2 linked regions of the Homo sapiens genome follow. The gene in region 1 interacts genetically with each later gene. Each region holds a gene or a part of one and is shown on either strand. Other genes may lie near its edges.

Region 1 (2,904 bases):
CTTTATAATTTACATATTATATTATTTTCCAGATATCGAATATTTTATATATATATATATATCTTTTTGAGACAGGGTCTGGCTCTGTTGTGCAAGCTGGGGTGCGGTGGCACCATTGTAGCTCAATGCAGCCTACAAGTCCTGGGCTCAAATGATCCTTCCCCCTCAGCCTCCCAGGTAGTCAGGACTACAGGTGCGCACCACCATGCTTGGCTAATTCTTTAAGATTTTTTACAGAGGTGGGATCTCGCTTCTTTTTTCTTTTTTTTTTTGCCTAGGTTGGTCTTGAACTCCTGGCCTCAAATGATCCTCCCACCTCAGCCTCCCAAAGTGCTGGGATTACAGGCATGTGCCACCGCGCCCAACCCTCAAATATTGTATTGTAAAAGACAATGAAAAGCATACAAAACAAAAATGATCAGTGAGAAGCTAGGTGGCGTCAAATGCCCGGGCAAAAAGGGGTTAGGTCTGCAGCGCTATACTCAGATGTAACTTACAGATGCAACTAGCGGAAACAGCATTAAATTTGTTAACTCAATGCTTGGTGGCCAGAAATTCATGTCAGGATAATTCATTTGAGCACAGACTAAAGGGTTTGGACTTGTAGTTATAGTCCAAGTTTCTCAAACTTGCTGGGTTTTATGAATCATCTGACACTTTAGTTAATAATACAGATTTCCAGGCGACTCCCTTATAGATCCCTTTTCTGTGGGCCTAGGAAGCAGCCAATCAGTATTTCATGGGTTCGGTGCCACCTATCCCAACTTGACAATGAGAGATCGCTCTGCATGCCAGGTGAAGGACCTGACGCTGGCGGGCGGCGGGGACTACCAGGTCAGCCCCAGGAGAGCCGGCTCCGGCAAGCTCCCCCAAGGCATGGCAGGAGCCCAGTGCAAGTTAGCACAGTAAACCCAATCAACAAGCCGCAGTCACCCCTCTTCCCCAGAAATGGCCTCTTCAGCTCTTGCGGGGGAGACTCTGAAAGTCCCCAAAGGACAGAAGTCTAGGAGGAAATGATTGCCGCAGAAAGGGATACAGTCTTGGCTACTAAAAACCGCGCGGAACCGCCTAGGGACCCGCTCCCAACCACCCACCTCCGGTGCTTCTACCCCCTCCCTCGCAAACGCGAAGAAAAGAAGAAACGCGAGATCCCAGTGCAGAGGCGTGGTCCCACCCTGGCCAATGGGAAGTGAGGGCGTGACTTTAAGTCTTTCTTTCATTGGCCCAGGGTCCCAGGCCGTCCAGGTCTTGGGGCGCCGCGGCGGAAATCGCGCGGATGCCAGAACGCGCTCTCAGCTTCGGGTCCTGCGGCTGCGGCTGCCGCCATCATGGTGCGGAAGCTTAAGTTCCACGAGCAGAAGCTGCTGAAGCAGGTGGACTTCCTGAACTGGGAGGTCACCGACCACAACCTGCACGAGCTGCGCGTGCTGCGGCGTTACCGGCTGCAGCGGCGGGAGGACTACACGCGCTACAACCAGCTGAGCCGTGCCGTGCGTGAGCTGGCGCGGCGCCTGCGCGACCTGCCCGAACGCGACCAGTTCCGCGTGCGCGCTTCGGCCGCGCTGCTGGACAAGCTGTATGCTCTCGGCTTGGTGCCCACGCGCGGTTCGCTGGAGCTCTGCGACTTCGTCACGGCCTCGTCCTTCTGCCGCCGCCGCCTCCCCACCGTGCTCCTCAAGCTGCGCATGGCGCAGCACCTTCAGGCTGCCGTGGCCTTTGTGGAGCAAGGGCACGTACGCGTGGGCCCTGACGTGGTTACCGACCCCGCCTTCCTTGTCACGCGCAGCATGGAGGACTTTGTCACTTGGGTGGACTCGTCCAAGATCAAGCGGCACGTGCTAGAGTACAATGAGGAGCGCGATGACTTCGATCTGGAAGCCTAGCGGATCTCCCACTTTGCATGGCTGTCTTTTACAGATGGGAAAACTGAGGCCTGATGCTGGAGATTCTATGAGGGTGCTCTCCTCAAGGGTATCAGACGGTCGTAGGTTCTTAAGAATTTGATTCATCAGTGGCAGGCCATGCATAGAGCCACGGGAGGTGCGTCCTTGTTTTCCAGGGAATGTTCTTAGAACTTGGACTACTGATTATTAATTGACTGTGCCTTGGGAAACAGTGGGAAGTAACTTGGTGCAGCACTGGGGTATTGTTGGCTTCTTGTGTTGGAAACTTTGTAATGTAAAAGGAAAAACTGGAAATCCCCACGCCCTGTTTCCCTTTATCGTCTTGTGGTTGGACTGGTTCAATTCGTTTAACTCGAATTCTTGCTCCTGGCCGTGGTTAAGCTGTGTACAGATGATGGAGAGTTTGGCCTCAAGTTTTTATAAACTGAGCGAGACTAGTGTTCAGGATCTCCTCCCTTGTTTAAATGTCAATAAATGCCCCAACTGCTTTGTAAGTGCAACTTTTTAATCTGTCTGGTTTTCTTTTTTTCTCTAGAGACGGAGTCTTGCTCTGTCACCCAGGCTGGAGTGCAGTGGCGCGATCTCGGCTCACTGCAACCTCCGCCTCCCGGGTTCAAGCAATTTTCCTGCCTCAGCCTCCCGAGTAGCTAGGAGTATAGGCGCCCGCCACCGCGCCCGGCTAATTTTTGTGGTTTTAGTAGAGTCAGGGTTTCACCATGTTGGCCAGGCTGGTCTGGAACTCCTGAACTCGTGATCCGCCCGCCTCGGCCTCCCAAAGTGCTGGGATTACAGGCATGAGCAAACTGCGCCCAGCCTCTGGTTTTCTTACATAGAGTCATATTTATACGTCCCAGGAGCCCAGAGAAGAATAGAGTCAGCAGCGAGTGACCTGCCTGTGGATTAGATGTGCAACAGGGCCACATGTGGAGGATGCAGGATGTTGTACAGGATTGGGCAAATTTGTCACTTTACCAGTCCCTTCCTTGGAATGAGTGTTTTG
Region 2 (3,500 bases), on another chromosome or scaffold:
ATGCCAGGTTTTGAAAGAGGAAGTAATTCTGTTGTCTCCAGGAGACCTAAGACCCAAACCATCTATGTATCTTTACTCTTTAGTCTGATACTTTTCAGAGACTATAGGAGTAGTGGACTTAGAAAAATAGAACATCCTGAGGACTCAAAAGTGGGTATCCAAACTAGCTGAAGCAGCTGTTCCACTTCTATAAACACGTATTTTTATTTAATTCTTGAAGGCAGACAGCCAAGTTGAGACAGCATTCTGCTTCTGCCTCTCATTTCTACTACTTTGGTGTACAGGAGCTCAGTTACCAAGTGGGCAACGTGGATTTAAGAGAAGAAATAAGCCCTTCCATCCCAATGTTCTGTTTTTCTCTAACTACTTTTGTCATTGTAGGTTTGGGAGAGGTGGTGGGACACAGTTAATACCCTTTGTCACTCAGGAGAGGGTGAGACATAATTGCACGTCTGTTGAGTAATAATAAATAGCCTACATTGGAATAGTGCCTTATAGTTTAGTAAATCCACTCCCACAAAGCATTGACATCTTCAAGTGCATGCTGTTTTTTTTTTCTTTTTTTCCCACTGTTTTTGAAGCATACCATATTAAAGAATTTTTTGTATCATGCCAAAGCCTTCTATCCATTCCCTACCATTCTTATTCCCTGACCTTTTTATGTCTCATTTTCCCTTTTGAGGGCTCAGCTTTGATCAAAAGCTAGTGGCAAATGTTACAAAGGTGGTAAAACCCTTAGGCACATACATAATGGCCTTTTGCCTTACCAGAGGCCTAGGCTTAAATATTTTCTCCTTACATTTAGCTAGAGATTTCTATATTTATTTCATCTTGAATTCTGATTCATCTCTTTCTTTTCATTTGTTCTCAGTCTCTATTGAAAAATGGACCAAGTGGTTCTTCTTATTTTCAAAACATTTAATTCTTTGGATGACATATGGGTTCTTCTTGGGAGCTGTTTTGACATATTTCTTTAATTAGTCAGCAGGGCTGCATTTGAATAGAGGAGGAATCTTTTCCTCCATTCAGCAAAGGAATGGCTGTCCTTTATGGAGACCATTCTATTATTGGCCCAGGAAAAAAGGGTATAGAATTAAAAATGTAGCCTAAATATTTCATGTGAAAGATTTGTCCACTTGTTGTAGGCCTGAAGGATGCTCATGGAGAAACAGGGCAAAAGAAATAATCAAAGAATAGTTCCTTCTCAAAGGCAGCATGAATCAAACTAAGATAAACGCCATGATAAAGAAAGAATAATGGAAAGTTTGGAATTAAAGCAGCATATAAATCATCAAGCAGGAAAAGGATTGTCTGTGGTTTGCAATAAGAGGACATCTTTGGAGTGCATAGAGGAGAATGACAGCAAAACAGGAAAGATGGGGGTTGGAGGAAGCCGAAGAATAAAAGTAGAATATCCATAGCTCTGTCCAACAACTTGTAGAGGACAGCCACAGGTTGGGTTTCTTGAAGAGGTTAGGAAAAGCACTGTAGAAGGGGAGGAGAGTGAGTGCCAAGCTATGGGGGCTGGAGGGCTGGAGAGAGCCCACCATATTTGGAGAACAGTGAAGGACCAGTTTGGAGTAGGGGCTAACTTAGGATGACTTACGGAAGAAATAGTTGAAAAGATATGTTGAGGTCAAATTATGGAAGAGATAATGGTTAGGAAGGGGTTGGAAGATATAAAGAAAAAGTGAAAGAGTTTGAGCAGAAGTGAATGAGACCAGAGGAAGGATGTCCTAGAAATTGTGCCTGAGTAAAACAGAAAGAAAAGGAATTGAAGGGTGAGAGTGAAATTTGGAAAAAAAAAAAAAAGGATTTGGCTTTTTCATTGTTGTTGTTATTAATTTTATAACAATTTAAAAACAATAACCTCTTAGAGAAAATGAAGAAAATGAGTTGGAAAGAACATATTTTCGGGGAAAGATGTATTATTGCAAGTACGGTAAGAGTTATGGTTAAGGCAGCTTGTTGAATAGGAAGAAAAATAGTGGATTAGAGAAGTATTTTAAGACTGGGGCAAAAACGACTCTAGTTAATTACTACAGTGAGCAGAAAATAGAAAATTATTTGACAGATAATTTAATTTAGAGTCTTAATTGTAAAGAATCTTTAAGAAAGTTTGTGTATTTATATTTATGTTACACATATGTTTATGTAGACAGTAAATCTAGCCAAGGTCATGATAATGAACCATAACATGAATTTTGGTGAATTAAAAAGAGATTCTAGGGATTGAAATGAATTTGAAGAGCAAACAGTGAAAGTTATTTTTAAGAATAATGAAAAGTTATCTAACTAATACAAATATATTCAAACTGAAAAGTCCAAATAACAGAGGAAATCTAGTGAGAATTATTTGTTGAGCCATGTAAATGTTTGAAATATTTTGGGGAATTAGGATAGAAGTCACATGCTGGGTTAGAACATATGATAGCAATAGAATCTCATTGAAAAATCAAGCCCTGTTTTGAAAATGTACTAAAGGAAAGGTGCTAAAGAAATGGGAAGTAAAACTACAGAGATAGCTAGTTAGCCAAAAGGTTTATTCTAAGCAGAATATTGCTTAGCCACATATACAAAAGGCAAGAGATTTTAGTTGGACCCAGAGGCTTGGGAGAGAAAATAACAAGGTAAGTACATTAATTTTATTAACCTGTAAGCGACTGTATTTTAGCTTTCTTAGGTGAATGTTTGTGCCATATGGAAAAAACATCTCTTTGCTTACTATTGGCACAATGAGCCCTGTTTGAAATACCTATTAAAATATACATGAGTGCCTACTGTGTGCACAACACAAATCTCATTAGCCTCTTTTTAAAATATGCTGAAACAAATCACTGCCTAACTTGTAACTCATGTATTGTTTTTCTGCTCCTTCAAAGTCATCAAAGCAGTATTCGAGTCTATATGTTAGGTGCTGTTTTGAGAAGGCAGAGACTGCATTCCATGAGAAGGAGACCAGGTTGGATGGTGGAAGTAAGGGTATTCAAAGTGCTGGTATAGAGTAATATAGTAGTAATAGGTCCATGATGTGGGGATAATGTTTGAGGAAAGCCAGGAATACAAATTACTGAGTATTAATCTCAAGAGTTTGGGATCAAAACCTCAGAATACTTTGGATAGGATTGAAAATAGAGTGTTGGCAGGGCGCGGTGGCTCACACCTGTAATCCCAGCACTTTGGGAGGCCGAGGCTGGCAGATCACCTGAGGTCAAGAGTTCGAGACCAGCCTGGCCAACATGGTGAAACCCCATCTCTACTAAAATACAAAAAAAAATAGCTAGGCATGGTAGCAAGCGCCTGTACTCCCAGCTACTTGGGAGGGTGGGGTGGAAAATCGCTTGAACCCTGGAGGCGGAGCTTGCAGTGAGCCGAGATCACGCCACTGCAGTGACAGAGCGAGACTCTGTCTCAGGGAAAAAAAAAAGAAAACAGAGTGTCTTCTGCTTTAGAACCAGCAGACCTTAGGCTGTAGATATCCAGCTGGTAGTATGGTTCTC

What was found. A genetic interaction does not mean that the proteins touch.
Region 2: of IMP3 (region 1) and ATG10, changing one suppresses a phenotype caused by changing the other (phenotypic suppression), as found in Homo sapiens cells (one large-scale study listed by BioGRID).

The regions. Positions count from the first base shown.
Region 1 is NC_000015.10:75,638,593-75,641,496, reverse strand, and holds IMP3 (U3 small nucleolar ribonucleoprotein protein IMP3), read left to right. Parts: upstream 1-1,272; 5' UTR 1,273-1,328; coding exon 1,329-1,883; 3' UTR 1,884-2,404; downstream 2,405-2,904. UniProt on the Homo sapiens protein: Component of the 60-80S U3 small nucleolar ribonucleoprotein (U3 snoRNP). Required for the early cleavages during pre-18S ribosomal RNA processing. Part of the small subunit (SSU) processome, first precursor of the small eukaryotic ribosomal subunit.
Region 2 is NC_000005.10:82,167,523-82,171,022, forward strand, and holds part of ATG10 (ubiquitin-like-conjugating enzyme ATG10), read left to right. Parts: intron 1-3,500. UniProt on the Homo sapiens protein: E2-like enzyme involved in autophagy. Acts as an E2-like enzyme that catalyzes the conjugation of ATG12 to ATG5. ATG12 conjugation to ATG5 is required for autophagy. Likely serves as an ATG5-recognition molecule. Not involved in ATG12 conjugation to ATG3.